Regions from separate parts of the Homo sapiens genome. Here regions 2, 3, 4, 5, 6 and 7 are each reported to be linked to region 1. Evidence: microRNA targets listed by miRTarBase, many of them from high-throughput screens and not tested one by one. Region 1 holds a microRNA gene; each other region holds the end of a gene's coding sequence. Distances are from middle to middle.

Region 1 (4,066 bases):
TGAGACCAGCTTGGCCAACATGGTGAAACCCCGTCTTTACTAAAAATACAAAAATTAGCCAGGCATGGTGGTGGATGCCTGTAATCCTAGCTACTCGGGAGGCTGAGGCAGGAGAATCGCTTGAACCTGGGAGGCAGAGGTTGCAGTGAGCCGAGATCGCACCACTGAATTCCAGCCTGGGCGACAGAGTGAGTCTGTTTTTTTTTTGTTTTTTTTTAAAGTCAACACAAATATTGAAAATAAGCAACTTCAGTGCACAAATAAGCTCAAAATCACTAGTGAGTGATCTATTTTTTGCCAATAAGAAGTACCATTTGTACATGACTTAAAGTGCCTTCCACCAAGAAAATTATTGAAAACTGTTGGGTCACATAACATTCCTACACTTTGGATACAGAGTATTTAGTTTTATACAAAATTAAGACAACAAGAAACCTAGGATGTCCAAACATTCATTTCATTTATTTTACTGCATTTATTTATGCAGTGAAAATTGAAAGATACACCAAATTAAAGATAAAACCCTGTGACAGATAACAGTATATGTAATAACATGAATATTTATTTACACTTGGTAGAGAAAGCAAAGCTAGCTAGCTCTAAACTAGAATGAAAGTCGTTTTGAAATGGGTACGGGGGTATATAAGGGGAATGATTGAGTCACATGTAAAAGCCTTTGTATGCCCAGTGCTAGTGTTTTCCTGAAATCTAGTGAGAATCACAAGGTACCAGAAATAATCAAATAATAAATATTAATACACTGCTGGGATAGAAGTATCTCAGTGTACCAGCATTCACTAAGCTATAAAATCTGTGACAGCAGGAATATTAAATTATGAACAACCTGGTTTATCTGTCTCCTCTTATCTTTTACCTCTCCCTACGCCCAAAATTCTCCTTAGGTTATCCAGACATTTTTACTAAGATGCTTATTTATATGTAAGAGAGATTTCCAGTAGATACAACAAAACACAAGAAATCACCTGTTCTGTTTATTCTTGCTCATGTAGGATAAAGGTCCTGAGACCTCTCAGAATCTTACGAGGTTGGAGAGTTGTTTGGAATGCTGGGTTCTGGTCTTGTCTCTGCTTCCAACCAGCTATGGAATCTTGTGTATTCTTTCAGTCTTAAATCACTCATCTGTTATCTAAAGATGGACTAAATTATTCCTTCCTGCTGTGATATTCTGTGGTTCTCATCAGATAGAAATAACATATTTGAAAATGCTTTGTAAATGTTATGATACTCAGGATTATACTGCACAGAAAAAAAAAAATCCTAAGGCAGCACCAACAAAGGTATTCAACGTAGTGGGTGGTCTTTTACAGCATTACTTTGCCCATATTCATTTTGAAGACCTGAAATGAAGTTGAACTATAAATTGCTCTAAAATTCGTGAAGCAGGGTGAAAAGGTCTTTGCTTTGTTTTACATTTAAATCCAGCTGTCTATTTTCTGCTTATACTAGTGCTTTTTCATGGCAAAAAGACAGAAAAGTTCCCTTCTGCAGTCTCCAGTGTCTTCTGACCTCACAGAAATGTTTTCATGCTTTTACCTAGCAGGACCACCAGAGGCTCTGTCACACTTGCAGTCCCTGGCCCAACACCGAAATCCTTCTGGAATCTGTGCTCTGGGGGCTGTGCCGGGTAGAGAGGGCAGTGGGAGGTAAGAGCTCTTCACCCTTCACCACCTTCTCCACCCAGCATGGCCGGCACACTTTGGTCTACGGCACATCTCCAAGTATAGAGTGGGTTTTGAATGCTGTTATGTCTCACCGTGGGGATGGGAAGGAATACTCTGTTTTGGACTATTTGGAGGTACATGTGAGTGGATTTTATTACCAGAGTAGGAACTGTTTCAAGTTAATGTGTCTTTTATGTTGCTTTTAAGACAACTTTTGTGCCGCTTTTATCCATTCTTCCTTTTATCCACAGAAATACAAATTTCTAATTATAGTATATTTTTTCTATTTTTAAAATTGTGATAAAGCATATATAACAAAATTTGCCATCTTAAGTGTACAGTTCAGTGGCATTAAGTACATTCACACTGTTGCACAGCCATCACCACCATCCATTTCCAGAACTTGTTTTCATCTTCCTGAACTGAAACTCTGTACCTGTTAAACAGTAACTCCCCATGCCCCACCTTCTTTCAGCCCCTGGTAACCAGCATTTTCCTTTGTCTCTATGAATTTGACTATTTTAGATACCTCATATAAGTGGAATCATAGTATTTGTCCTTTTGTGTCAATCATATTGTATTTTTGTCTAAAAAAGGAAAACTATCAGATTTATGTGAAATGTAACGTAATTTACATTTGATTTACTGTTAGTAATGTCTCTTTAATCATGCTATGCTAGGGAAGTACATTATGGTCTCTCCCTCTAAGAATATGAAGAGGAAATTTTACCTTCAACAAACAAGCAAACTTAGTTATATTTTTGTGATTTTATGCTGTTTTCATATTCTATTTTGAGATCTATTTGTCTTAGCTTGGAGGTGGTTTTGTTAAATGTCCACGATTTAGAGACGGCATAATGAAAAAATGACCAAGAATTTGGTTGGGAATGGGAGGAGCTTAGAAGAACAAGAAATTGGCTTTGATTTTATAGTGTATGGTGCTCTGTTGGTAGCTGGACATCATCACAGGCTTTGGATTGAGAAGACCTGTTCTGGAGTTCTAGTTCTGCTACTGCCTAGCGTTGTGATCTTGATGAAGATACTCTTCCTTCCTGGGCTTCAGTTTTTGATCTATAAATTGCTAGTGATGGGGCTGGACTATTTTTAAGTTTGTTCTAACTTTAGCAGTCTTAAGAATTAAGGTTGCATGCCAGAAAATAGGGTTAAATATTTGTTTCTGATCTGGTTACAAAAAAAAAAAAAACTTGATGGCTTAAAGTAAATAAAAATTCAACAGTACGGTGTAAATTTAAAATGAGGCAAAAGAAAGATAATGACTTAATTTTTATTTTAATCTTTCTTATAGCTGTTTTATATAAGAACTTTTCATGAATACAATCAAAATGTCCATGAGATAAAAATAAGCTAATTGTGCAGGAAAAGTACAAATGCACTTTTTCTGCAGCTCTAACATGTAAGGTTTGGGAACAATCGTTGGGCCTGACAAACAGTTGAGCTAGGGTAAGGGTGAATGCCTTTTCTGGAAGCCTATCAAGAGCATCGAGGTGAAGTCCTCTTACCTTTAATCATGGGAGAGCCCATTCTGGACCAAGGGTTTGAGAAAATTATTCTGACTGTGTTCTAAGGTAATAGGTGAATGGGTGCTCAAGGGCCCCTGTTGCATTTCATGTAGACTTGCCAGAAGAGTTTTAGCTTGAAAACATCATAAGATGAATATAGGCAGATCCCAAACTCAGTAAAAAAACAGCTATAGAATGTTGCTCTATCCTCCAAGATGAACACTTTACATAATGTTTGTACAAGGTGGCTTGTGTGAGTTTGTTGATAAACCAGTTAAAAGTTGGGATATCCCCCAGCTATCCCAAAAGAAGAGGACTAAATACAACCATGTTTTAGTCTGCTAGAGACTTGTGTTCTGACCTAAGACCTGTCAGAAGACCTGTCCCACTGGCTCTGCTTCTGTACTAGTACTATAAGGCAGGTTCTGTGTGAACATTAATAACCAAGGATCCTGAGTTAGACTTATAGTTTGGTCAATAACCAATTTATACCTAGATTGAAAGACCAAGGAAAAGTTAATAAAATAATCAACAATCTGGTACTATTTGAGGGAAAGTAGGGCTATCCTATTTGGAGATGGAATAAATGGGATAAATTATGTTTGGGGCCTGAATAGACAAGATCATAGCTTGTATAGTAAGGGTTCTTAACCTGGGGCTTCAGAGCTCCAGCGAGTCTACAGAGAGACTATTTGATATGCTAGTTTTCTTTGTATTTCTCTGAATTTAATTTTACGTGTTTAAAAATATGATGATGAAAAGAGGCACATGGTTTCATCAGATTGCCGGAAGGATCCATGATACAAAACAGATTCAGAACTCCTGTATGTTGAGTTAAAGTGAACAGATTAGTAATGGTTGGAG
Region 2 (4,066 bases), not on the chromosome of region 1:
CGTATTCTGCTGTTGGGTGTCCTTGGAGTCACAGAGTAACAGCTGATCTAGACTAAATCCTATGTTAACCAGAAATAAACTCCAGAGAAAGGAGTGCCATCCTATTACTTCCTCTCCACCCCCTGACTAACGCTACCTTAGTGTTTCTGAATATGAGAGTAGAAAAAGAAGATCATTTTTTAAATATGTGTTTTTAAATTGCATTTTTAGAACTCTGCTGCACAGTTCTGCAACATCTGCAGTGCTAAGAACCGTGGACCAGGAAGTGCAATTTTGGAGATGAAAAAATAGCTCATTTCTCCTTGTCAGTCTCCTTGTCACCACTCTTTTTGAGACTGTTTTTGCAACAACAAAAGCATTTGTTGACACTCGTGCTGTTAAGAGATTTGTTTATGTTTATATTATACTCAAAAACAATTTCTTCATCTATTCCTGTACTAATGGTTTCTCTTTGCAGTTCACAGAGAATTTGGGGCTCTCTTCATGCCTTGAAATTTTGGGGTCCATAGTGAATATTTTGTTATTTATTTGTTTGGCTCATTCTTTATATAGTAATGGAAACATAAGTCTAGGAGTTAGAAATGAATTTTTTAGACCTTAGTAAAACCATTTAACCATAAAATGGACAACTGAGAATTCTCCCAGCTGCCTGAAAGCGTCGCCAACTGTGGTTATCCTGCAAGCTGCTACCTGCAACTTGGACGTTGTTTCCACGTGCTCTGCTGGCTACGATTCTTGCATTCTGGGTTTGGCTTTTTTCTGTGTCATCAACTATGGTTATCCTCTAAATAGGCATTTAATGAAACATTGTACAAATTGTCACTCATTTGATGACACCTGGGAATAACATTAGCAGGCTGATGTCCTGCACCATTATGTTTACTAATCACATGTTCTGTGTGCTGTGACGACTGTCAAAGAGTATCTGGCCATGGCGGACACTCAGCATTTGTTGATTGAATAAATGTTAGCTCTTCTCATTGTGAAGGACTCACTTTTACTGGGATAAACAAATGCAGTTAAGAATTCTGGCACCCTTGTAAGGAAGAAAAGAGAGTTCAACACCTTCGAGTCTGAGCGCTTGTGGCTAGAGTTTGCCAGGAGGGAGGAAACCAGTGACCCTGAAAACTGAGGGTGCCTCAGGAGCAGTGGGACCACCTGATGCTGAAGGACGGACTAATGATGTTTCCTCTTGCCTTCTCTGGTGCCTCCATTGCCCTCATGGAACAGAGCATATCATAGAGGGAGAAAAGTCAAACTTGTAATTGTGTCTTACAGTTACTGGCTTCATCTTCCTTGGGATATATGGTCATCCTCTAATGAGTGTAAAAGTGCGCAAAACACATCCTTATTGTTCCTGATCTCTTAGTCCCATAAATGGGAACAAATACAGCTTTCTGCTTCTTTCTTTTTGGGGAAAGGACAGGGTGCTAGTGAGTACTGACAGCATGCCAGCTACCGAAGTCACCCAGCCATTCCCATGAGCAGCAGTTCATTTAATTGTCACAGCGTCGCCAGGAAGAAGATCTGATAAACCTAGGTTTACAGATAAAGAAAGCAAAATGTAGAGATGTTGTTGAGGTCACAGAGGTGACTGCCTAACTTCAGAGCAGGGCTTCTGATCCCTTTAAGAAATTACAGGGCCAGCCGGGCATGGTGGCTCACGCCCGTAATCCCAGGGCTTTGGGAGGCCTTGGCAGGTGGATCACCTGAGATCGCACGTTCGAGACCAGCCTGACCAACATGGAGAAACCCCATCTCTACTAAAAACACAAATTAGCCAGGCGTGGTGGTACATGCCTGTAATCCCAGCTACTCAGGAGGCTGAGGCAGGAGAATCACTTGACCCCAGGAGACGTAGGTTGTGGTGAGCTGAGATCGCGCCATTGCACTCCAGCCTGGGCAACAAGAGCAAAACTCCGTCTCAAAAAAGAAAAGAAAAGAAAAGAAATCATAGGGCCAAGTTCAAAGGAAATGCACAGAACATATCTTCACATTAGAGTTAAGAATTCTCTAGCAAACAACAGATTTTTTTGTTGTTGTTAGTCACAAATACTTAGAACTGGAAGGCTCTTTGTTATTATTGAATGTACCCCTCAGCCTTCTCAGCATTTCCTTATCCCAAGACTAGTGTGCTTTCTGCTACACTGCTAGTTTTCAGTTTTGTTCTTACCCAATTGTTTTTTCTTTTCAACATTACCAATTTACAGATTCAGTTTATTACATTTACATTAATCCTCACTTATGATTTGAGCAAGCTCATTTCCAGAAAAGTTTACTTTAAGATCATCAATAGGATTTGCTAATTTCAGTGAAGTCATTTTGCTTCAGGGGTAAATTATCCTAGTTACCAAGTCCTATTTGGACATAAAGAAAATCCTACTTATAGAAAAGGAGAAAATAATTAAACAGTCTTCATTTTTAAGTAACTGATTTAAAAGGAAAATAATAAAATATGTTCGTTTATCATTTCAGAAATTGCTGTAACACACTGGAAAATTCCTGAACAATATAGATTTTATCGTTAATAAAAAACACTAGCTTTCGTTCCTTAGAATGTCTTTTCTTTTGAATAAACAGTATTGGGTGATTTATTAAAGGATATTCAATCCTTTTTACTTTTCATCAACCTATAAGGGCTTAAATATGGCAAAATAATCCAAGTGTTAGTCAATTATTTTTCATGTGTGACTAGCCCAATTTAAAATATAGGTAAAAAGGAAACCCATTCCCCTCGTTTTGGGGAAGAACATAGTTGCAAAGTACACACTTCATAAGCTATTCTTTTTTTTTTTTTTTTTTTTTTTTTTTTTGAGATGGAGTCTCGTTCTGTTGCCTTGGCTGGAGTGCAGTGACATGATCTTGGCTCACTGCAACCTCCGCCTCCCAGGTTCAAGTGATTCTCCCGTCTCAGCTTCCGGAGTAGGTGGGAGTACAGGCACGCACCACCATGCCCAGCTAATTTTTTGTACTTTGGTAGAGATGAGGTTTCACCATGTTGCCCAAGCTGGTCTCGAACTCCTGAGCTCAGGAATCCGCCCACCTCGGCCTTCCGAAGTGTTAGGATTACAGGCGTAAGTCACCATGCCCAGCCAAGAAAGCTATTCTTGAAGTGTAAAACAGCCAGGTGCAAAATTATTTTGGAGTACTTTAGTTTGCTTTTGTTTTTAGCCAAAGGGATTTCATACTGGTTTAATTATGTTCATCCTTGAGAATTTTTGAGAAGTTTCCAACAGATTTGTAGTTCATTTTGCTGTTGTTACAATGTAAAGCTATATATAGTTGACCCTTGAACAACACAGGTTGGAACTGCAAGGATCCACTTATACATGGATTTTCTTCTGCCTCTGCCACCCTTGAGACGGCAAGACCAGGCCCTCCCCTTCCTCCTCCTTCTCAGCCTACTCAGTATGAAGACGACAGAGATGAAACACTTATGATGATCCACTTCTACTTAATGAGTAGTAAATATATTTTCTTTTCCTTATGATTTTCTTACTATTTTCTTTAGCTTGCTTTATTATAAGAATATAGCATATAATATAAATAAAATATAAAATATGTGTTAATGGTCTATTTATGTCACCAGTAAGGCTTCCAGTCCACAGTAGTCTATTAGTAGTTAGGTTTTGGGGGAATTATACGTGGATTTTTGACTGCATGGGGTGTCAGCACCTCATCCCCCACATTGTTCAAGGTTCTACTGTATTTTAATATTAAAAACCAAACATGCATTGAGTAATTACTATGTGTTAGGAATTATTAGAAGCACTTTGCTTATACTATTTAATTATATTAATGTATCCCTATGAAATTGGTGTTATTACCATCATCGTCATTTTATGGATGAAGAAACTGAAGCACGTAAAGGTTAAGTAACTTGTCCAGGGTCAGGTAGCTGATAGTGGAACACCTAGCTGAAATTCAAACCCATGCAGTTGCCTTCAGAGTGCCTGATCTTAACTGGTGCATATTTGATTTTTTTGTTGTTAAAACATACTTATTTGAGCTGTTTTGGTCAGTGGATAGAAAGCAAAATCCACTCTTAGAATAGAAAGGGATTTAT
Region 3 (4,066 bases), not on the chromosome of region 1:
GGGTGTGGTGGTGGACACCTGTAATCCCAGCTACTTGGGAGGCTGAGGCAGGAGAATTGCTTGAACCCAGGAGACAGAGGTTGCAGTGAGCCGAGATCACGCCACTGCACTCCAGCCTCAGCGACAGAGTGAGACTCTGTCTCCAAAACAAAACAAAACAAAACAAAAAACCCCCCAAAACCAGAAATTGATTAAGGGCCAGGCACGGTGGCTCACTGTGCCCGGCTTACAGGTGTAAGGCTCCACACACGGCCTAATATGGGTTTTGCCAAATGCGTAGTGCCAGGTATTCATCATTACAGTATTATACAGAAGAGTTTCACCACCCTAAAGATCCCTGTCCCTCTGCCCACTTTTTCCTCCATCCAGCTTCTGGGAGCCAGAGGAACCCAATAACATCCACGATGAGGACTGTGCTACCATGAACAAAGGTGGCACCTGGAATGATCTCTCTTGCTACAAAACTACGTATTGGATTTGTGAGCGGAAATGTTCCTGTTGAAGCCCAGGGCCGAGGCTGGGGGTCCATATCTGAGTGTCTCTTTGAGATGAGAATCTCCTGCCCTTTCGTGGACGGCCTTGCCTCTTCGTGAGTGGACACACAGATGTGCCTCAAACAGGATTGGCACCCTGGATGCAGCAAGTTCCCAGGGGTGCAAGTCAGGCTGTTTCTAGAGTGAGGACTTGGGCTTGCCCTAGTAGATGGTGAGCTGGGAGGATGCTCAGAGCTTGGTGGTGGGAGGTCTCCCACTTCTGGGGTTGAAAGGATCTTCACTAAGTTCCTGATCATGACTCTTGGGAAGTGATACTAGCCCTGAGGACCCTGGGGCTGGTGTTGAACCTGGGATGAAATATCCTGGCGCCTGTGAACCACAAAGAGCTGGGACTGGGCTCCTTTTCCTGCAGCCTCAAACTTCTGGGCTCAGGTGATCCTCCCATCTCAGCCTCCTGAGTAGCTGGGACTACACATGCGCACCACCATGCCTGGCCAATTTTTTGTAGCATTTAAAGAGAGGGAGTCTCACTATGTTGCCCAGGCCAGTCTCAAACTCCTTGCCTCAATGGATCCTCCTACTTGGGCTTCCCAAATTGTGAGGATTACAGGTGTGAGCCACTGTGCCTGGCTCAAAATTATTATTATTATTTTTATAGAGATGAGGTCTCACTCTGTTGCCGAGGCTGGTCTCAAACTCCTGGGGTCAAGCAATCCTTCCGTGATGGCCTCCCAAAGTGCTGGGATTACAGGCATGTGTCACCGTACCTGGCCGATATTTTTATTTTTATTTTTACTTTCCCCATCTTTTCCTTTTTTTTTTTTTTCCAAACAAAAGCTTTGAAAGTGGTGACAGAAAAATTTCCCTTTGAGCTAGACCTCTAGATCTGCCTCGCACAGAAATACATTAAGTGGGCTGGTCTCATGTAGTCCCCACATCATTGCAAATTACAAACCTAAAAATACAGAACATCAGCGGAGAAGACAGGAGAGCTTCTATATTCACCCCATGTCGTCCTCTCCAGACACTGCTTCCTTCCTGGTCTCAAACAGCACAAATAACCCAGAAACCATCAAAATTATTTTTGACCAGCAACTTTCTCAATGTCTTGGGTGAGGTTTGCACAAGCTAAGTGGCAGAATCAGACTTTTGCCAGAAGACTTGGCCCGTGGAACTTCTATCCTTTTTTTTTTTTTTTTTTTTTTTTGAGATAGGGTTTCATTCTACTACCCAGGCTGGAGTGCAGTGGCACAATCATAGCTTACTGCACCCTCTGCCTCCTGGGCTCGAGTGATCCTCCTGCCTCAGCCTCCCAAGTAGCTGGGACTACAGGCGTTCACCCTCACACCTGGCTGGCCCATGGAACTTCTAGAAAGGCATACCAGCTGAAAAGCAAGACCCCTACATAGTGTGGCCAGGCAGGCCATAACCTGGTCATATCCACACAGGACAACGATGGACCTATCTGCCAGCACGTGCCCTTGAGCTATCTGTGGGTTGTAACGTCTTTGATGATATAATTCACTTTACTTGCCAGGCACAGTGGCTCACGCCTGTAATCCCAGCACTCTGGGAGACTGAGGTGGGCTGATCACCTGGGGTCAGGATTTCGAGACCAGCCTGGCCAACATGGTAAAATCCTATCTCTACTAAAAATACAAAAAAATTAGCTGGGCGTGGTGGCATGTGCCTGTAATCCCAGCTACTCAGGAGACTAAGGCACGAGAATTGCTTGAACCCAGGAGGCGGAGGTTGCAGTGAGCCGAGATTGTGCCACTGCACTCCAGCCTGGGTGACAGAGCAAGACTCCATCTCAAATAAATAAATAAAAATAAAAATTCACTTTACTTCTGTGTGGACTTTCCTGGGCTATTAGCTCTTGCAATGTTAGTGCTTCTCAAAATGCCACTATGTTGGGTGTTCCTTGTCTACTGTGTGTTAGTTTGCTGGGGCTGCCATAACAAAGGACTGGGTGGCTTCAGCAACAGAATGCATTTTCTCACAGTTCCGGAGGCTGGATGTCCAAGATCAAGGTGTTGGCAGGGTTAATTTCTTCTGAGGCCTCCTGTCTTGGCTTGTAGATGATCCTCTTCTCCCTGTGTCTTCACCTGGTTCTCCTTCTGTGTGTCTGGGTCCTAATCTCCTCCTCCTCTTCTTTTGTTTTTGAGACAGGGTCTCGCTCTGTCACTCAGGCTGGAGTGCAGTGGTGTGATCTCAGCTCACTGCAACTTCCACCTCCCAGGCTTAAGCATCCTCCCGCCTCAGCCTCCTGAGTAGCTGGGATTACAGGTGTGCACCACCGTGCCTGGTTAATTCTTGTATTTTTTGTAGCAACGGGGTTTCACCATGTTGCCCAGACTGGTTTTGAACTCCTAGGCTCAAGCAATCTGCCCACCTTGGTCCCCCAAAGTGCTGGGATTACAGGCATGAGCCACTGTGCTGGGCCTACAACGACCACTTTAAAGATCCTGTCTCCAAATACAGCCATATTAGGAGGTCCTGGGAATTAGAATTTAAACATATGCATTTGGGAGGGGTGGCACAATTTGGCCCATAACATTCACAAACTGCCAGAGTGACCCCCACCCGACCCTCCTGCCCTGGCCATGTGACAACCAAAAAATACCAATTAGAGGGCTGGTACTACTCCCAGCTAGGCATAACTCAACATAGTATTCCCTTTGGACAATCCCTGAATTGCATCCAAGGGTGGGTAGACATTCTCCAAACCAATCAATTTATTTTTTTTTTTTTTGTGACAGAGTCTTGCTCTGTTGCCCAGGCTGGAGTGCAGCGGCGTGATCTCGGCTCACTGCAACCTCTGCTTTCCAGGTTTAACTGGTTCTTCTGCCTCAGCCTCCTGAATAGCTGGGATTTCAGGCACGTGCCACCATGCCTGGCTAATTTTTGTATTTTTAGTAGAGACAGGGCTTTGCCATGTTGGCCAGGCTGGTCTCGAACTCCTGACCTCAAGTGATCCGCCCACCTCAGCCCCCTAAAGTGCTAAGATTACAGGCGTGAGCCACCATGCCTGGCCTTATTTTATTTTTTGAGACAAGGTCTCACTCTGTCGCCCAGGCTGGAGTGCAGTGTTGTAATCATAGCTCACTGAAGCCTCAAACACCTGAGCTCAAGAAATCCTCCGTCCTCAGACTCCTGTATAACTAGAACTACAGGTGTGCCCCCACCACACCCAGCTAATTTTAATTTTTTTTTTTTTTTGTATAGACAGGGGTCTTGCTTTGTTGCCCAGACTGGGCTTAAACTCCTGGTCTCAAACAATCCTCCTGCTTCAGCCTCCTAAAATACAAGGATTGCGATCAATTTATTGATCAATAAGCTCCCTTAATCAATAGCAGAATCTTTCCTGTTTTGTCTGAGAACAGGTGCTTATAGCAAGGAGACTGTGAGGAGAGCAGGTGGTGGGAGAGGTCGGAGCTGATTTCACTTCCTGTTTCTTTGATTTGTTTTAAATCTACTTGTTCTTTTATTTCGTTATTAAAAAAATTTTTTTTGAGATGGAGTGTCACTCTGTCACCCAGGCTGGAGTACAGTGGCATGATCTCGGCTCA
Region 4 (4,066 bases), not on the chromosome of region 1:
AATCTTTTCCCCACCTTTCCCCCTTTTCTATTCCACAAAACCGCCATTGTCATCATGGCCCGTTCTCAATGAGCTGTTGGGTACACCTCCCAGACGGGGTGGTGGCCGGGCAGAGGGGCTCCTCACTTCCCAGTAGGGGCGGCCGGGCAGAGGCGCCCCTCACCTCCCGGATGGGGCGGCTGGCCGGGCAGGGGGCTGAGCCCCCCACCTCCCTCCCGGCGGAGCAGCTAGCCGGGCAGGGGGCTGACCCCCCACCTCCCTCCCGGATGGGGCGTCTCGCCTGGCGGGGGGCTGACCCCCCCCACCTCCCTCCCGGACGGAGCCGCTGGCCGGGCGGGGGGCTGACCCCCCCACCTCCCTCCCGGACGGGGCGGCTGGCCGGGCAGAGGGGCTCCTCACTTCCCAGTAGGGGCTGCCGGGCCGAGGCGCCCCTCACCTCCCGGATGGGGCGGCTGGCCGGGCAGGGGGCTGACCCCCCCACCTCCCTCCAGGACGGGGCGGCTGGCCGGGCGGGGGGCTGACCCCCCCACCTCCCTCCCGGACGGGGCGGCTGGCCGGGCGGGGGGCTGACTCCCCCACCTCCCTTCCGGACGGGGCGGCTGGCCGGGCAGAGGGGCTCCTCACTTCCCAGTAGGGGCGGCCGGGCAGAGGCGCCCCTCACCTCCCGGACGGGGTGGCTGGCCGGGTGGGGGGCTGACCCCCCACCTCCCTCCCGGACGGGGCGGCTGCCGGGCGGAGACGCTCCTCACTTCCCAGACGGTGTGGCAGCCGGGCGGAGGGGCTCCTCACTTCTCAGATGGGGCGGTTGCCAGGCGGAGGGTCTCCTCACTTCTCAGACGGGGCGGCTGGGCAGAGACGCTCCTCACCTCCCAGACGGGGCGGCGGGGCAGAGGCGCTCCCCACATCTCAGACGATGGGCAGCCGGGCAGAGAAGCTCCTCACTTCCTAGATGGGATGGTGGCCGGGAAGAGGCGCTCCTCACTTCCTAGGTGGGATGGCGGCCAGGCAGAGACGCTCCTCACTTCCTAGATGGGATGGCGGCCGGGCAGAGACGCTCCTCACTTTCCAGACTGGGCAGCCAGGCAGAGGGGCTCCTCACATCCCAGACGATGGGCGGCCAGGCAGAGACGCACCTCACTTCACAGATGGGGTAGCGGCCGGGCAGAGGCTGCAATCTCGGCACTTTGGGGGGCCAAGGCAGGCGGCTGGGAGGTGGAGGTTGTAGCCGAGATCACACCACTGCACTCCAGCCTGGGCACCATTGAGCACTGAGTTAACGAGACTCCGTCTGCAATCCCGGCACCTCGGGAGGCCGAGGCTGGCGGATCACTCGCGGTTAGGAGCTGGAGACCAGCCCGGCCAACACAGCGAAACCCCATCTCCACCAAAAAAATACGAAAACCCGTCAGGCCTGGCGGCGCCCGCCTGCAATCGCAGGCACTGGGCAGGCTGAGGCAGGAGAATCAGGCAGGGAGGTTGCAGTGAGCCGAGATGGCAGCAGCACAGTCCAGCTTCGGCTCGGCATGAGAGGGAGACCGTGGAAATAGAGGGAGAGGGAGAGGGAGACCGTGGAAAGAGGGGGGGGGGGGGGAGGGGGAGGGGGAGGGGGAGGGAGAGAAGAATTTTTATGACTACTCACCTAGACAGGATTAAAAAACTGCATTTTGTCTTAATATACCATGTGGCCATTATATTTTTGGGAGGTTGCTTTTCTGTGGTACGTTTAAATAATGTTACCATTGGCATCTTGACAGAACTGTTTCTGTTGAATGATTTCCTTAGGATAAATTCTCAGTGGTGGAGGAGACTGATGGGACAAAGTCAATTAATGACTCATGCTTTGTGTTTCTTCAATGCTTTTAAAAGGGGGACTTATTTTCCTTACAGCTGTAACATTTGATTTCCTAAATATTTATTTATATTTAAAAAGTATTTGTATGTGTTAAGATATTTTGCCATTCAATACATTTTAAGAAGTTAACCTTATTTCACGTCCGCCCAATGAAAAAATATTTTGCTATACTATAGGAGAAACTTGAATCACTTAGAACTTGTCATTTAAAATATTTGTTTATGGAAGGGAAACCTCTTTTTCCTCTTGTTATCCCTCAGAGATCTTTTTAAATGGAATGTTTTACCTTTTTCAGCACATGTAAGTTATCTACTTGTGAGAAGGGAGCTGATTAACCTGTGATATTTTTGCTGAAGATTTGTATGTCATTAAATCAGCAGTATATGCTCAACACCTACTAATGATAGTAGTCACTAGGAGAGATAGAAAAGATTGAAAATATATCCCTGGAAAAATTAATAATGCCAAAAGATCTGTTCAAAAAAGGTTTTATCCAAAAAAGTTAATCAAGACAAGCAACAGATACTGCAAAGCATTATATACAGCACCATAGTCCAGGGGCCAAAGAAATCAGGAGGGGCTGGGCAGTAGAGGAATTCCATATATTAATGAATGTGAGATTAAGTATAGAGTGAAGACATTAACACACAATTCTAATTTCTGTTAGGCAGAATGCTCCCCTACCCTGATGCCACAGCCTTTCACGTTTCCTAAACCCTAGTAACCTCTGATCTCCATCTGCCTCATCAACACGTCACCACCCTTTGCTCTTCTTCCAATTAGTCACATGTTGGCTGAATTTATTTCACTCCAGTACTTTAGGACCTTGACAGACAAATCGATTACAAGGTCAATTCCCAGGATTTCTTCAGGGTGTGTTCAGGAGTGCAGATGTTCTTTGGATGACCTTTCTACTAAATTAGACCTCTGAAGGAGAAAGCTACTTGCCAGAGGCTTTCCCTGAGAGCATTAGGTTGGGCAAAATCTGACTAAAATTTAATTACTAAATGAAAGTGTGTACCTTAGAGTTCCTGGCCAGAGTTGACTCTAGGTAGTGATGTGATTTTCTTGGGATGTTTTTCTAAATATTCTTTTATGCTAAAGCACATGGCTTGATACTTCTGTTGATTAAGCTCGTGTCTACTTACAGTCATCTAGTGAGAACCTGTGGTGTGGTGAGATGATAACTTGGTCTTTGGTCTTCATCATTTGAACTAGTTTTGGTTTTGTCTTGTCCCTTCCTTGAGCATTTTGTGTGTGTTTAATCCTATTTGGTAAACGAACCACTGTGAAAGACCAAGTTGGAGAAAACAGAACACCCCCAAAACATTTATTTTTTTTTTTAGAAAATCATGGCTCACTATGGTAGTATACAATATTGTTTTCACACATGTACACTTGAAACCAAATTTCTAAAACTTGTTTTTCTTAAAAAATAGTTGTTGTAACATTAAACCATAACCTAATCAGTGTGTTCACTATGCTTCCACACTAGCCAGTCTTCTCACACTTCTTCTGGTTTCAAGTCTCAAGGCCTGACAGACAGAAGGGCTTGGAGATTTTTTTTCTTTACAATTCAGTCTTCAGCAACTTGAGAGCTTTCTTCATGTTGTCAAGCACTAATGGGGGATAAAAGCAGGAGAGTCAAGACACCATCGTGCGTTATATCGATATAATAAACCCCAAACTTGGATGCTCAATTCATTATTTAATGGGATGCTTTTTTTTTTGAGACAAGGTCTCACTCCCACTCAGGCTGGCATGCAGTGGTGCAATCTCCACTCAGTGCAACCTCTGCCTCCTGGGTTCAAGTGATTCTTCAGCCTTAGCCTCCTGAGTAGCTGGGATTAGAGGTGTGCTCCACCATGCCCAGCTAATTTTTGTATTTTTGGGAGAGATGGGGTTTTGGTATGCTGGCCAGGCTGGTCTCGAACTCCTGAGCTCAAGTGATCCACACACCTCGGCCTCCCAAAGTGCTGGGATTACAGGCGTGAGCCACTGTGCCCAGCCTGATAGGATGCTTTTTATCATGAGGTGAATAGTTGGTAATCTTATTGTAATTTAAAAAAATTATATGAAATGGCTTTTGTGACAATCTAGTTTTCTAGTGTAGTCATTCCTTCCCAGATCCTTCATCTCCAACCCTCACTTCCAAAAGAATCCTTTTATAAGCTCTAGCAGCAGAAGATAATTTTGGCTCATTTAGAAGTAAAT
Region 5 (4,066 bases), 87 Mb from region 1:
GTTTGCTGGCCTTCTCTTTTGCATCGCCAGTGGGTTAGACTTGCCTCTTCCCATTAGGCACATGTAAGTGCTCTCCTCAGGTGAAAACATAAATATCATCATTACAGCATGAGATGAAAACCATGTAAATCAGGGAGCCAACTGTGAACACTGCCCAGAGCAGCCTCACGGTCTTTCTCTTTCAGGTGATCCAAACCCCAGAGCCGGTGGCCCCGACAGAGCAGGTGATCACTTTGGAGGAGACCCAGCTTGCCGGGTCGCAGGTGTTTGTGACGTTGCCAGATTCTCAGGCATCTCAGGCCAGCTCTGAGCTCGTGGCGGTGACTGTGGAGGACTTGCTGGATGGCACAGTGACGCTGATCTGTGGTGAGGCCAAATGAGCAGCCTTTCATCCGGCAGAGCCTTCCTGCGTTTGCAGCAGAGAGGAGGCCCCACAGCTTGCCCTTTGCCCTCCATCCCTGGCTGTCCTGAGTGGTGAGCATCTTAGCTTAGCACCAACCAACACAGTCTCACCTAGAAAACAGATGGAAGCTTCGTTGTTCTCATAGAACCAACAGCATCTGAGCCCTCAACACCAACAGCACCATCCTCTGTAGCAGACAGGCCTCCCTCCCCACAGGCCCGCTGCTGCGGCCTCTATGACACTGTCCATCCCCAAGTGACATGTGGCTTCAGAAGTAGAGTCTGAAAGAGCAGTGGGATGGGAGCTGGTGACCAGGGTACCCCAGGAGGCATGATGTGCCGACAGCGCTCAGTGGGCAGAATGGCAGTTAGATATGGGACTTGGCCCACAGTGGGGGCTGCAAATGCTGCCACTGCCTCTGGCCATTTAAAGTGAGAGGGGCACCAACAGACAATTCGGGGACCTTAGGCCCCTTCCTGAGGCACACTTGGCCCCTTCCTCGGTCCTATCATCCTACCCTCTGCTGGGGTTCCCCCTCCACCCAGTGGCCACGCCCAGCACCCTATTGATGGCTATAGGACAGGTAGCCCTCATTTCCATGCCTGATAACCCCTTGTCAGTTGTCAGCTCTTCCCAAAACAAAGCTCTGGAGTTTCTGCTGGAAGTGTTTAATGTGAGGCATCAGCTGCTAGACAGTGTCTGCCTTTCCAGGACATTCTTCTTGGTATTCCTTACCTGAAGCCTGGTTCCCACAGCTCTTCCGTGTCATCTTCATCCCCTTCCTTTAATCAAAGGCTGAAATCTCTGCCTGACCTGGCAGCCTGGCTCCCTCTGGGTCATATGGTGCAGACTGTGACCAGCACCAGGCAGGCAGTCCTGTCTGCGTGTGGAGGAGCAGCCGTGACTGCCCGTGGCTCTGCTGCCGCCCACTCCCTGCCTTGTGAGTGGCCTGCTGCCTCACCTCCCGCAGGCCGCCACACTTATTGCAGGTCAGTGATCCTTTGGAGTTTGAATTTCACAAAGCTTTTTTTATCTTCAGTTCCTAAAATATAATCTGATAATTAATGGTTTGTGGAATCCATTATGAAGTGCAATTAGATAGATGTAGGTTCCTGCCGTTTGGAGAGAATGACTAGCATTTATCTTCTTTTCCTTCCATGCCAAAGGTTGGAGTCTGCTGGTGCGGTGTTTACACACCAGGCAGGGCTGTCTGCCACCTTGTGTGGCTTGACCCCCTGTGGAGGGGAGTGCCTGGTTGGATCCCACACTGGCAGAGATGGGGCCACCCCTTCCTTCCAGGCACATCTCACATTGCCATGTACAGAGGCAGGAGTCACGTTTGGTCACCATGGAAGCTTTTATTGCTCCCACATGGTCAGGTCTCACCCTGCTTGAAGCGCAGAAGGCACAGCCTTACTGACCAGCACGCCCACTGACTGGCATCTGCCGGCTTTGTGCAGGCAGCCCCGACGGTTTCCACAGCGAGCGCCAGCTCCGGCCAGCCTGGGACAGCTCATCCCAGCCGACTACACCTGCTTCTGGTCCTGTCCACATTTTGATACGCAGATCACTTGAGCTTGTCAATTAGGGTTCTGCCATTCTGAAATAAATGAAGTTTCTAAAGCAGAGTCGGCCTCAGAAGCCAAAAACTGACCAGAAGATGGTGCTCAAACCTTTAAGACTTCATCTCCATGTGAAGGGCTCACTGTTTCTACCAAGGCTGTGCCTGTATTAAGGCTTTTCCGTCCTGGGAACTGTCAGTCTGGGAGAGCTCTTGATCTGCAGGTGGCAAAATGGCACTGAATATCCCCTTGGCAGCAGAGAAAACCCACTGAAAGATCGTAGAGTGGCACATGCTTACAGGGCATTGGTGCCAAGTCCAGTGGATGAGAATCCAGCCCCTCACAAGCTGTGGGATGGGGCTTGGGAGTTGCAGTGAATGTCATTAAAATTTCTTCCAAAACAAAACTAGAAATAATTGCTGAGGGCTTATAGGGAAGTGATTTAAAAAGAAAAAACAAACAACAACAAAAAAAACTCTTCGGAATAAAGAGGGCTGTAAATTTTGAATTCCAGTGTCAGATCCTTTCAAGCACTGAGAAATTCTTTCTCAGGTTTCTTTTTTTGGGGGAGACAGGGTCTTGCTCTGTCACCCAGACTGGAACACAGTGGCACGATCTTGGCTCACTGCAACCTCTGCGGGCTCACGCAATCCTCCTGCCACAGCTTCCCAAGTAGCTGGGACCACAGGCGTGAGCCACCACTGCTGGCCAGTTTTTGTATTTTTTTTTTTTTTTGTAGAGACAGGGTCTCGCCATGTTGCCCAGGCTGGTTTAAAACTCCTGAGCTCAAGCAGTTCTCCCACCTGGGCCTCCCAAAGTGCTAGGATTACAGACATGAGCCACTACGCCTGGCCAGGTTTCTGTTGGAGACCCAGATTGTGACAAGACATTTGTTTTCTTCGGAATCACCAGATTTGCAGCTTACTGTGCCGAGAGTGGACTGGCTGCCGGGGCCCATCAGATGCCCTCTGGCCCATGGCACACTCAGCAGAAGGCACAAACCCAGTGCTGGTTCTCATCAAGAAAGAGGGGAAGGCCCTTCCCGAGTTTACTGTCTGCTCTGAGTGGGCTCCGCACTGGCTGACTGATTTTATAGTCTTGCTCTCTAGAGAAGCCCAGGCATGGATCTTATAGGAAAACTTTCTGACTCTGCTTGGCCATTTTATCCTTTTCTCCTACTTCTGCCCAAGAGACCTGAATTGCTGCCATAGAGGACAGTGTTTGTGTGGTCTCCTGAGTCCACATCGCTCGCTTCCATGGGGTCCCGGTGTTGTTTTTGCCTCGTTCCCCATAGGCTGCTGCCCTTATGGCCTCTGGACTGAACTCTGGGGCCTTTGGGGTGGTGTGAAGGAGTCTGTGGGCTTCTTGGAACACATGGATCTGTTCGGTGGGTCCCCAGACCTCTGCTCCCAGAGCTCATGGCCCAGGTGGTGAGGAGGGAAAGGCAGTCAGATTCCAGGCTGGAGTGTGATTCTGTGGGAATACTGGGGTCAGTTATGGAACAGGACTTGCCCATCATAGGTAAGTGAGACAGCAAATAGATGATTCAAGAGCAAGGATTACTGCGGGAAGGTGAGACTCCTACTGTCCACGCGCATGAGCAGAACCTGGAACCAGAGGGGCAGGGACCAGGGGTCTTTACTCATTTATTTTATGGGTAAAGAGACATGAAGAGACAGCCTCTCTCTTCTGTCTCAGAAGCTCTGTGTTTGGGAAACTTTGAGCCCAGTGAGTAGCAGGGTCTGCAGTGTGAGTACCAGGTTTCCCTGGCAATCCAGGTCTCCTCTGAGGAAGCATTCTGACTTCCCACTGACCACGGAAGGCATGTCAGCTTCATGCCTCGGGCTAGAGTTCTGATAATCGGGGCTGAGGGGTGAAAAGAAATCCAGTCAGACAGACAGTGGGGAGACAGGTCCCTGCCCTTTATTTGCGGGATCAATCAGGGACTCCCAGAAAGGAAGGAGAATGGTGAGAAGGGCCCTAAGAGTTCGTCTCTCACCTGGGGGCTGGTGACGTGGTCACCACAAGCTGAAGACAGGCTAATGGGGTGGCGGGTGTGTGTTTAAACCTCACGTGCCTGGAAGCTGCACATTGACCAAAG
Region 6 (4,066 bases), not on the chromosome of region 1:
ACCAGGCATGCTGGTATTTGTGCTCCTTGCTGGCACCTGTGCGCTCTGTCGCCCAGGCTGGAGTGCAGTGGTGCGATCACGGCTCACTGCAGCCTGGAACTCCTGGCCTCAAAGGATCCTCCCGCTTCAACCTCCCAAAGTGCTGGGATTACAGGCGCTCACCATCGCTCCCGGCCCTTTGATTCTCGAATTGCGGTCTCATCTTCTGGGTGCTAGGTCTCCAGCTCTGGCCTTTCCATTTAGGGCCCTAGGCATCCTCTCTTCCCGTCTCCGGCACGGAGTTCCTGGGATCTAACCAGTTCCCATTCCTGGGGGCCCATGCGTCCTCGCGAGCGTCCCTGACCGCCCGGCGTGGAGCCTCCTGGGAGTTGTGGCCTTCATTATCTCCCCCCCGATCTCACTTAGAGGAAGGCTCACGGAAGTGGAGAGCCTGGCTCGAGCTGCCATGGTAATCTAACTCATGTAACCCTTTTCTCCCTCCACCAGAAGGGACTTCCTCGCCCGAAGAGCGCGGGCACAGCAACGCAGATGCGGCAAAGCTCCAGCTGGACGCGAGTCTTCCAGTCCTGGTGGGATCGGAACTTGGGCAGGGGAAGCTCCGCCCCCTCCCAGTGACCTTCGCTCCACATCCCGAAACTCCACCCGTTCCCACTGCCCTGGGCAGCCATCTTGAATATGGGCGGAAGTACTTCCCTCAGGCCTATGCAAAAAGAGGATCCGTGCTGTCTCCTTTGGAGGGAGGGCTGACCCAGATTCCCTTCCGGTGCGTGTGAAGCCACGGAAGGCTTGGTCCCATCGGAAGTTTTGGGTTTTCCGCCCACAGCCGCCGGAAGTGGCTCCGTGGCCCCGCCCTCAGGCTCCGGGCTTTCCCCCAGGCGCCTGCGCTAAGTCGCGAGCCAGGTTTAACCGTTGCGTCACCGGGACCCGAGCCCCCGCGATGCCCTGGGGGCCGTGCTCACTACCAAATGTTAATAAAGCCCGCGTCTGTGCCGCCGAGGCTTTTCTGTGCGTCGACTGGGGCTCCGGCAGGCCGGGGTAGTGCTCTCACGGATACTTTCAAAAGAGGCCGCTGTCTTACGAGGGAAACTTAGGCTCTGCCTGACATCCAGCGACAGAGACGGAAGGGGTCGCGGCGGCTCGCGGGCCTGGGCTGCGCGGCCCAGGTCCAAGTCCCCAGCACGCGCATTGGGACCGCAGCGCTGCCGGCAGCCCGATCCCGCGCTCTGCAAACCGTGCCGCGGCCCCCCAGAGAGGGTCACTCGCTCCTATTTGGGTCAGCCCTTTCCAGCAGCTACTGTGTGGCCGGCCCGGGGCCAGCGCCGCCCGGGTACCTCGCGGGGCGGGAGGGAGCGGCTGAGCCAGGCTGGCAGCAGCGCGGTCGCTGGAAACTGAGGCTTCATGCGGGGACCCGGACAGAGCGGGGGCTCCGTTCCAGAAAGATTTATTGGCGCCCCCTATAACCCGGGCCGGTTCTTGGTGCCGGGCACAGAGATGCATTGCGCCACGGCCCTGCTCGCGGAAGCTCCCGAGGGCCCGGAATCGGCAGGGCAGTCAGAGAGGGCTTCAGGGAGGAGGCAGCTAGAGCTGCGACCGGAAGGTGAGGTGAGGGTCATCCCCCCCGGCGCAAGGAGGAGTGGACCCATGGAAGGACAGGGGAGCAGCAGAGGCCAGGCTTCTAGGGGCTGGAATGTCACACCCAGAAGTTAGACATTCAGCTGGTATTTGAGGACCTGGGAACTGACTTGGAGTGTGTCCCTCAGTGGACACCAGCTAGAGTCAGGAAGGTGGGAGTTGGCTGCTGAGGAGCCTAGATACGGAATACACTGGAGTGAGCAGAACTGGGGGATAGGGCAGCGTCCCACAGAAGAAGTGAGGAAGTCTGGGGCCATTGCATTGACCCTGAGGGAGGAGGGCCCTACTCCGGAGCCTGTTTCCCTGGCCTCCCCACCCCATCTGTTTGCCTGAGGCTGCAGCAAAAACAAAGCAAAGAAGATACTCAATTGGCAGGAGATAAGCCCAGATAAGAGGCCGCCTTCCCCTGGAGGAGGGATGCAGGCGGGCAGCCTGGGAAGAGCCAGGAAGCTGGGAGAGGCCTTGAAGAGGTGCCAAGCCGACCCTGCTGCGAGCCCAGCCCCGCCCTGGAGCCCGCACTGTGGGCTCTCTGCCACTTTTCGCTGGTCTTGAGGCATGGGACAGGTCCAGGCTGGCTGAAGACAGTCCACCACGGAGGGTCCAGGCCTGCCCTGCCTCCAGGTCAGGACGTCTTGACTTAGCTGTGGCCTAGCACACGACAGATGGCTCCGGGCCTCAGTCTCCTCATCTGTAAAACAGGCATAACATCTCCCTCACAGGGATGAGGGGATGCTGGGTGGCCCAGCCCCTGCGTGTCTGTGACTGTCCACTTCCCTTCCCCCAGAGTCACAGGCAGGCCTACTGCCCACCTATTTCTGAAGACCCAGGTCCCCCGGTGTTGGGCAGGTTCTGAGCTGCCCTGCTCCACCCTGGCCGATCCATCACCTGATAGAGTCAACTGCCTGTCGGGGGCCCAGAGCAGCCCCAGCGGAAGATACTAGGCGTTTGGGTCATATCAGGCCACAGGAAGCGGGGCAGGGAAGGCTTCCTGAAGCAGAGGCCTGAGCCTCAGAAAAGAGAGAACAGGGAGAGCCTCGGAGAGACGAAAGTCATGGGGATGGGGGAACAGGAACAGCGGCTTGGGGGCAGAGGGCACAAGCAGAAGGCCACGGAAGCTCAGCAGACTCGGCAGGGCAAGCTCAGGTTCAACCCAGCAGCCCTTGGCTGGAGGCGTGACCTCAACCCCACCAAATGCCCAAAGTCCATTTTATAGATGAGGAAACTTAGGGCCCAGAGTCCTGTCACCCCAAATCACACTGCACACAGGGTCCCTGAAATCCACTTTTATTCATGTAAAAAAAATCCCCAAAGAATAGAGAAAAAAATGTGACTCCTACTTCCCGGAGCTCCAAGTCTCCAGCCAGCTCTCCCGGGGAAGGGAGGAGACGCTGCTAGCTCGAGGGTGTGGGTGTCACAGGGAGCAAAGCCCTGACCAAGGCCCTAACCTAAGACTGAGGGCAGGAAGGAGGGGCCCCAGGAGGATGAAGGGAGTTAGCTGAGGTACTTGCCCCGGGTTTAAAAAAATAAAATTTCTAGATAAAAAGTTAAAAAAAAAAAAAAAAAGCATTAGTGTCATTGCCTCCTGCCCTCCACCCAGCGCCCGCCCTGGCCCTGTGGCCACCTCGCTCAGCCAGTTCAGAGCTGCGTGTTCTCCTCCTGGCTCTCCGAGTCAGCGCCCGACAGGTGCCCGCTGCTCCCGGGTGCGTGACCGTTGCTGGCACAGGCCACCAGAGGCCCGTCCCCCAGCCCCTCCGGCATCTCGCCCAGCAGGCTCCGGCGGATCTCCTGGGGGAGCCTCGCCCGCTGCTCCTGACACTCCTGGGCCAGCTGGGCCAGCAGCTGTGGGAGAAGGATGGGCATCACAGGCGAGGCCTGGCTGCCTTGCACCCCGTCTGCCCACCTGTTCGCCCATGGCCTCACCTTGGGCTCCTCTTCTGCCAGCTGTTGCAGGACCTGCTGCTGCCCAGCCACAAGACGGTCATGCCGCTGCTTCTGGGCCTCCTCCAGCTACAGGGGTGGGCAAGGGCTCAGCTGAGGGGCCCTGAGGGAGGGGCTAGAGCCTCGAGGCTCTGGCTGGGTATAGAAGTCAGGTGGGCGAGGCCGGGTGCAGTGGCTCACATCTATAATCCCAGCACTTTGGGAGGCCAAGGCGGGCGGATCACCTGAGGTCAGGAGTTCGAGAACAGCCTGGCCAACATGGTGAAACCCCATCTCTACTAAAAATAAAAAAATTAGCCAGGCATGGTGGCGGATGCCTGTAATCCCAGCTACTCGGGAGGCTGAGGCAAGAGAATTGCTTGAACCCAAGAGGTTGCAGTGAGCCAAGATCGCGCCACTGCACTCCAGCCTGGGCGACAGAGTGAGACTCTGTCTCAAAGAAAAAGAAGTCAGGTGGGCGAAGGCTCCCAGGGCAATGTATCAGGGTTGTGAGAGG
Region 7 (4,066 bases), not on the chromosome of region 1:
TTCATTGATGGAGTCAATTATGCAAAGTGGTCAGTGGTTGTTGAAGCATGCATTGCTTCAACAGGATTTGCGTGCATTTCCCATGATCCTGCATTCTTGTGTTCTTGATAGCATACAGACTTACTCAGAATCAACAGTTGCTGCTTAATTTGTCTATTTTGTAAGCTTAGGCTACTATTTTATTAAAACTGGACATAGATACTTGGCTGAATACAAATAGTTTTGCAGATTGCAATATAATAAAGGAAACAGTAAAAACTAGTGGGCTATGCTTAGGTTTTTCTTGAAACCTAACATTGCTTTAGGCTGGGTGCCGTGGCTCGTGCCTGTAATCCCAGTGCTTTGGGAGGCTGAGGTGGGAGGATCACTTGAGACCAGGAGTTTGAGACCAATTTGGGCAACACAGTGAGACCCCATCTCTAAAAAAATTTTAAAAATTAGGCAGGCATGGTGGTGCATACCTGTAATCTCAGATACTTGGGAGGTTGAGGTGGTAGGATTGCTTGAGCTCAGGAGTTTGAGGCTGCAGTAAGCTATGATCACGGCCACTGCACACCAGCCTGGTAGCCTGGGTGAAAGGGGGAGACCCTGTCTCTTAAAAAAAAGGGCTGGCCTGTAATCCCAGCACTTTTGAAGGCCAAGGCAGGCAGATCATTTGAGCCCAGGAGTTCAGGACGAGCCTGGGCAACATGGCAAAACCCTGTCTCTACCAAAAAATTAAAAAATAAAAAATAGCTGGGTGTAGTGGCACATGCCTGTAGTCCCAACTACTCAGGAGTCTGAGGTAGGAGGATCAGTTGAGCCCGGGAAGTCGAGGCTGCAGTGAGCCATGTTGGCACCACTGCACTCCAGCCTGGGCAACAGATTAAGACCCTGTCTCAAAAAAAAAAAAAAAAGTGAAAAATAGATAAAACAGGTCTTCATTGTTACCTGTGAGAAATGGCCCTGATTCTATTACTCTTATATGCCAGTTTGTTTATAGATTTCTGTGTGTTTGATTTGAACTTTTTTTTTTTTTTTTTTTTTTTTGAGACAGACTCTCACTCTGTTGCCCAGGTTGGAGTGCAGTGGTGTGATCTCAGTTCACTGCAACCTCTGCCTCCCGGGTTCAAGCAGTTCTCTGTCGCAGCGTCCCAGGTAGCTGGGATTACAGGCGCCCACCACCACGCCCAGCTAATTTTTGTACTTTTAGTAGAGACAGGGTTTCACCATCTTGGCCAGACTGGTCTTGAACTCCTAACCTCAGGATCCACCCGCCTCGGCCTCCCAAAGTGCTGGGAGCCACCGCGCCCAGCCTGGTTTGAACATTATTAAGCTGTTGAATATAAACTTGAAAATAATTTTCTATGATACAGCTTTCAGGTAGAAAAATGAATTTTCGTTGTGTTTAACAATGTTGTGTTTAACAGCTTATACAAATAACACAGTATAAATGGTAATTGCCACTGTCATTTTAAAAATCAGAAAATAGTAAATAAAAGGATGTGGAAGAGTCTCATGTGATACAGTGGAGATTTCATACCGAATAAAAGCATTATAAATATGGTTAAATTGAACATAAGCATAAATTTAACGGAACTCATTAGAAAAAAATAAGCCTTTTTTCTCAGGTTTGTTTCATTACTGTATGGTGAGACAACTGATTCACCACGATTTAGTCTAGAGCTACTTTTCTATTCTGAATAGTTTTTGGTAAAACTATTGGCTGAATTATTAGGCTGTTATAGTAATCTGCCTCCGTCAAGTGTATTTTCTTGGGTTAAGGAAAAAAAAATTTTTTTTTAACTATTCACGGAAGCTGGATGTTCTTCCTTGTCATTTGAATCAAGGCCGTCTAACAGGAATTGAATAATTCAGGGACTAGCATTTAACCCATATCAGGTCTAGGCAAGAAAAGACATACATTAGGAAGCCTTAGGATATCATTAAACTGCCTAGGGTAGTCAAAATTATTGAGTAGACACCAGACCTCAGTGGATTACTTAAGTAAATGGGGTCAGATGTCATCATGAAGAAAATTAACAGGAAGAAAATGAGAGTACAGAAGAAATGTTTTGAAAATAGAGTGAAATACAACTTTGAAGACCATGGCTGAGAAGTGCTAGGAATAGTGGCAGCACATCAACCAGAAATGGTGTTGAGCTGTAAGAAACAGACGTCAGGCTTCATATTGCCCTTGTGTCCAGGGGACAAGGATGAAAAAGCTTTTTGATTAAGAGCAGTAGACCAAATCAAAGCTAATTATGTCATTTTGGCCAGGCGCAGTGGCTCATGCCTGTAATGCCAGCACTTTGGAAGGCCAAGGCGCTCAGATCACGTGAGCCCAGGAGTTCAAGACCAGCCTGGGGAACATGGCAAAACCCTGCCTCTACCAAAAAATACAAAAAAATTAGCCAGTATAGTGGCACATGCCTGCAGTCCCAGCTACTTGGGAGGCTGAGGTGGCAGGTTTTATATATATATATAAAAAACACATATATATATATGTGTGTGTGTGTCATCATTTTAAGTCTCACTGTGCAAAGCTATGAGTCCTCAATACTTTGGACTACTTAGTGTAATATATTAGTTGTTAGAATAGCATATATATATATATATATATATATATACATACACATACATACACATACAAACATAGTGCAAAAAGATGTTTCAGGGAAAACATCAGTTTACAACATAATGTCTTTCATGACTCAAGTAAAAGCTCACAAGTAATTTCTTCTGAAACCCAGATCACTGAATTACAGGTTTGCCTATAGATGTACCAGGTCAAAGGCTGTGCCAGAGAGAATGAAATACTAATTATTTTCAGGCTGATAGGTTCAGTTCCTGCAAAGCCTGTAGGTCTTGCTCTACCCTTTGACTGCCTTAATCAGCTGCCGAGCTTCATGCCATTGTTTACAAGGGGAATTGGGTGAATAAATGTAGACAGATTACAGTAAATCCACGTTGCCTGCAAAAGTGACTAAGGTGTATCCTTTACTGATAAAGTAAGGATGAAATGTGGAAACATATAATTAAATTATAAATTACCAAGCTTTTGTGATAATTCATATGCTTTTAAATATTTTGAACCTAAGTGTTACCCTCAAAATGTTTTAAAATATAAAAATCAAGAAATAGAGCAAGCAGGAAATGGGATTTTAAACATTTTGATTTCAAGAAATAGAACTATCTTAAATATGATGCTGAAACAATCTGAGAGGCAGGAGATAGGACTCAGGCAACAGAGATCCGAGGAAATATATATGGGCATTTTGTGGTTCATTTTTCTTGTGTGGCATGTGGTACAACTGAAGCATAAATCTTTTTGATATCATCTAGTTTTGCCAGAGGTATGGGACAGTTCATATTCTGTCCATAAGTTCGGCTACTTACATAAACTGAAATACAAGTGCAACTCCAAACAGGTTTTTTCTTTTCTGGACACCATCATCAAGCATGGAAGACTGGATCTGGAATTTCCCTTCATATCTTGCCAGTTGGCCTCCCAGTTTCTTGCTTATGTTTTCTCCTGGTGTGTTTTCAACATTGTAATTGTTTTCAATCAACTGTATAAGTTTTATTTTCTTCAAAGCATCTATTGATTCCTTTTTTAAAATCATGTCTCCTAGCTCCTTTAAATGTTTGGAAAACGGTAGTTAAGTTTCTTGGTATCACAGTAGTACTTCTTATTATCCAAAGCTGGAAGGATGCTGCTGCCAGTTAGCTGGGGTAGGTACTGCAACTAAAAATGCAAAACACAGAATTAGGTTCAAAACTGTGCCATGCATTTTTTTCATTATTTAGAATATATCACAAAAGAGGTAATTAAGCTTTTTAGTATAGAAGTACTTTTTTTGCACACAATCCAGGACTTGAGAGAGGATTAAATGTTTCAATTTCGTCTTGGCTTTTCCTTTTAAATGTTTATATTAAAAAGGAAAAACATTCACATTAAAGAAGATTTAGAGAATATGAAAAGGGGAAAATCTACATGTTAACATTATTGGGAAGAAAACATAGATTTACAGGAGTTGAGAGCTTGCTGAGATCTTAGGGATCATTTAAGCCAATGCCTTGTCTT

Evidence for each region. Region 1 holds the annotated microRNA hsa-miR-197-3p (UUCACCACCUUCUCCACCCAGC, at 1,682-1,703, shown strand). A microRNA usually pairs through its seed, bases 2 to 8, with sites in the 3' UTR of a target mRNA and lowers its output. Matches are read on the target gene's strand: a 7mer-m8 pairs with bases 2 to 8, a 7mer-A1 pairs with bases 2 to 7 and ends in A, and an 8mer does both.
Region 2: the mRNA of VPS41 is a reported target of hsa-miR-197-3p. Seed matches in the 3' UTR shown: 7mer-m8 at 1,865-1,871.
Region 3: the mRNA of CLEC17A is a reported target of hsa-miR-197-3p. Seed matches in the 3' UTR shown: 7mer-m8 at 1,340-1,346.
Region 4: miRTarBase lists AGR2 as a target of hsa-miR-197-3p. Seed matches in the 3' UTR shown: 7mer-m8 at 2,607-2,613.
Region 5: miRTarBase lists ZBTB40 as a target of hsa-miR-197-3p. Seed matches in the 3' UTR shown: 7mer-m8 at 472-478 and 7mer-m8 at 3,393-3,399.
Region 6: miRTarBase lists PLCB3 as a target of hsa-miR-197-3p. The part of its 3' UTR that is shown has no 7-base or 8-base seed match.
Region 7: miRTarBase lists CDKL1 as a target of hsa-miR-197-3p. Seed matches in the 3' UTR shown: 8mer at 1,644-1,651 and 7mer-A1 at 1,205-1,211.

Annotation. Positions count from the first base shown.
Region 1 is chr1:109,597,259-109,601,324 of GRCh38, forward strand. MIR197 (microRNA 197) reads left to right here and starts at 1,635; the gene lies at 1,635-1,709. It overlaps GNAI3 (G protein subunit alpha i3), which reads left to right. Exons shown (of 9, transcript NM_006496.4): 9 at 1-2,937.
Region 2 is chr7:38,722,471-38,726,536 of GRCh38, reverse strand. VPS41 (VPS41 subunit of HOPS complex) reads left to right here. Exons shown (of 29, transcript NM_014396.4): 29 at 211-3,563. The coding sequence ends at 291. Among named protein-coding and RNA genes, the nearest start is that of AMPH, 93 kb to the right of the region's middle.
Region 3 is chr19:14,609,695-14,613,760 of GRCh38, forward strand. CLEC17A (C-type lectin domain containing 17A) reads left to right here. Exons shown (of 14, transcript NM_001204118.2): 14 at 370-2,341. The coding sequence ends at 502. It also overlaps a transcript of ADGRE3 not described here. Among named protein-coding and RNA genes, the nearest start is that of SNORA104, 10 kb to the right of the region's middle.
Region 4 is chr7:16,789,487-16,793,552 of GRCh38, forward strand. AGR2 (anterior gradient 2, protein disulphide isomerase family member) reads right to left here. Exons shown (of 8, transcript NM_006408.4): 8 at 2,325-3,471. The coding sequence ends at 3,422. Among named protein-coding and RNA genes, the nearest start is that of AGR2, 13 kb to the right of the region's middle.
Region 5 is chr1:22,526,017-22,530,082 of GRCh38, forward strand. It overlaps ZBTB40 (zinc finger and BTB domain containing 40), which reads left to right. Exons shown (of 18, transcript NM_014870.4): 18 at 186-4,066. The coding sequence ends at 380. Among named protein-coding and RNA genes, the nearest start is that of EPHA8, 35 kb to the right of the region's middle.
Region 6 is chr11:64,266,758-64,270,823 of GRCh38, reverse strand. It overlaps PLCB3 (phospholipase C beta 3), which reads right to left. Exons shown (of 31, transcript NM_000932.5): 30 at 3,553-3,639; 31 at 2,901-3,471. The coding sequence ends at 3,268. BAD (BCL2 associated agonist of cell death) reads left to right here. Exons shown (of 4, transcript NM_032989.3): 4 at 487-994. The coding sequence ends at 615. It also overlaps a transcript of GPR137 not described here. Among named protein-coding and RNA genes, the nearest start is that of BAD, 16 kb to the left of the region's middle. RefSeq lists enhancers at 1-203, 333-762 and a silencer at 1,213-1,332.
Region 7 is chr14:50,326,455-50,330,520 of GRCh38, forward strand. CDKL1 (cyclin dependent kinase like 1) reads right to left here. Exons shown (of 10, transcript NM_004196.7): 10 at 1-3,727. The coding sequence ends at 3,620. DMAC2L (distal membrane arm assembly component 2 like) reads left to right here. Exons shown (of 6, transcript NM_001382507.1): 6 at 1-1,503. Among named protein-coding and RNA genes, the nearest start is that of DMAC2L, 16 kb to the left of the region's middle.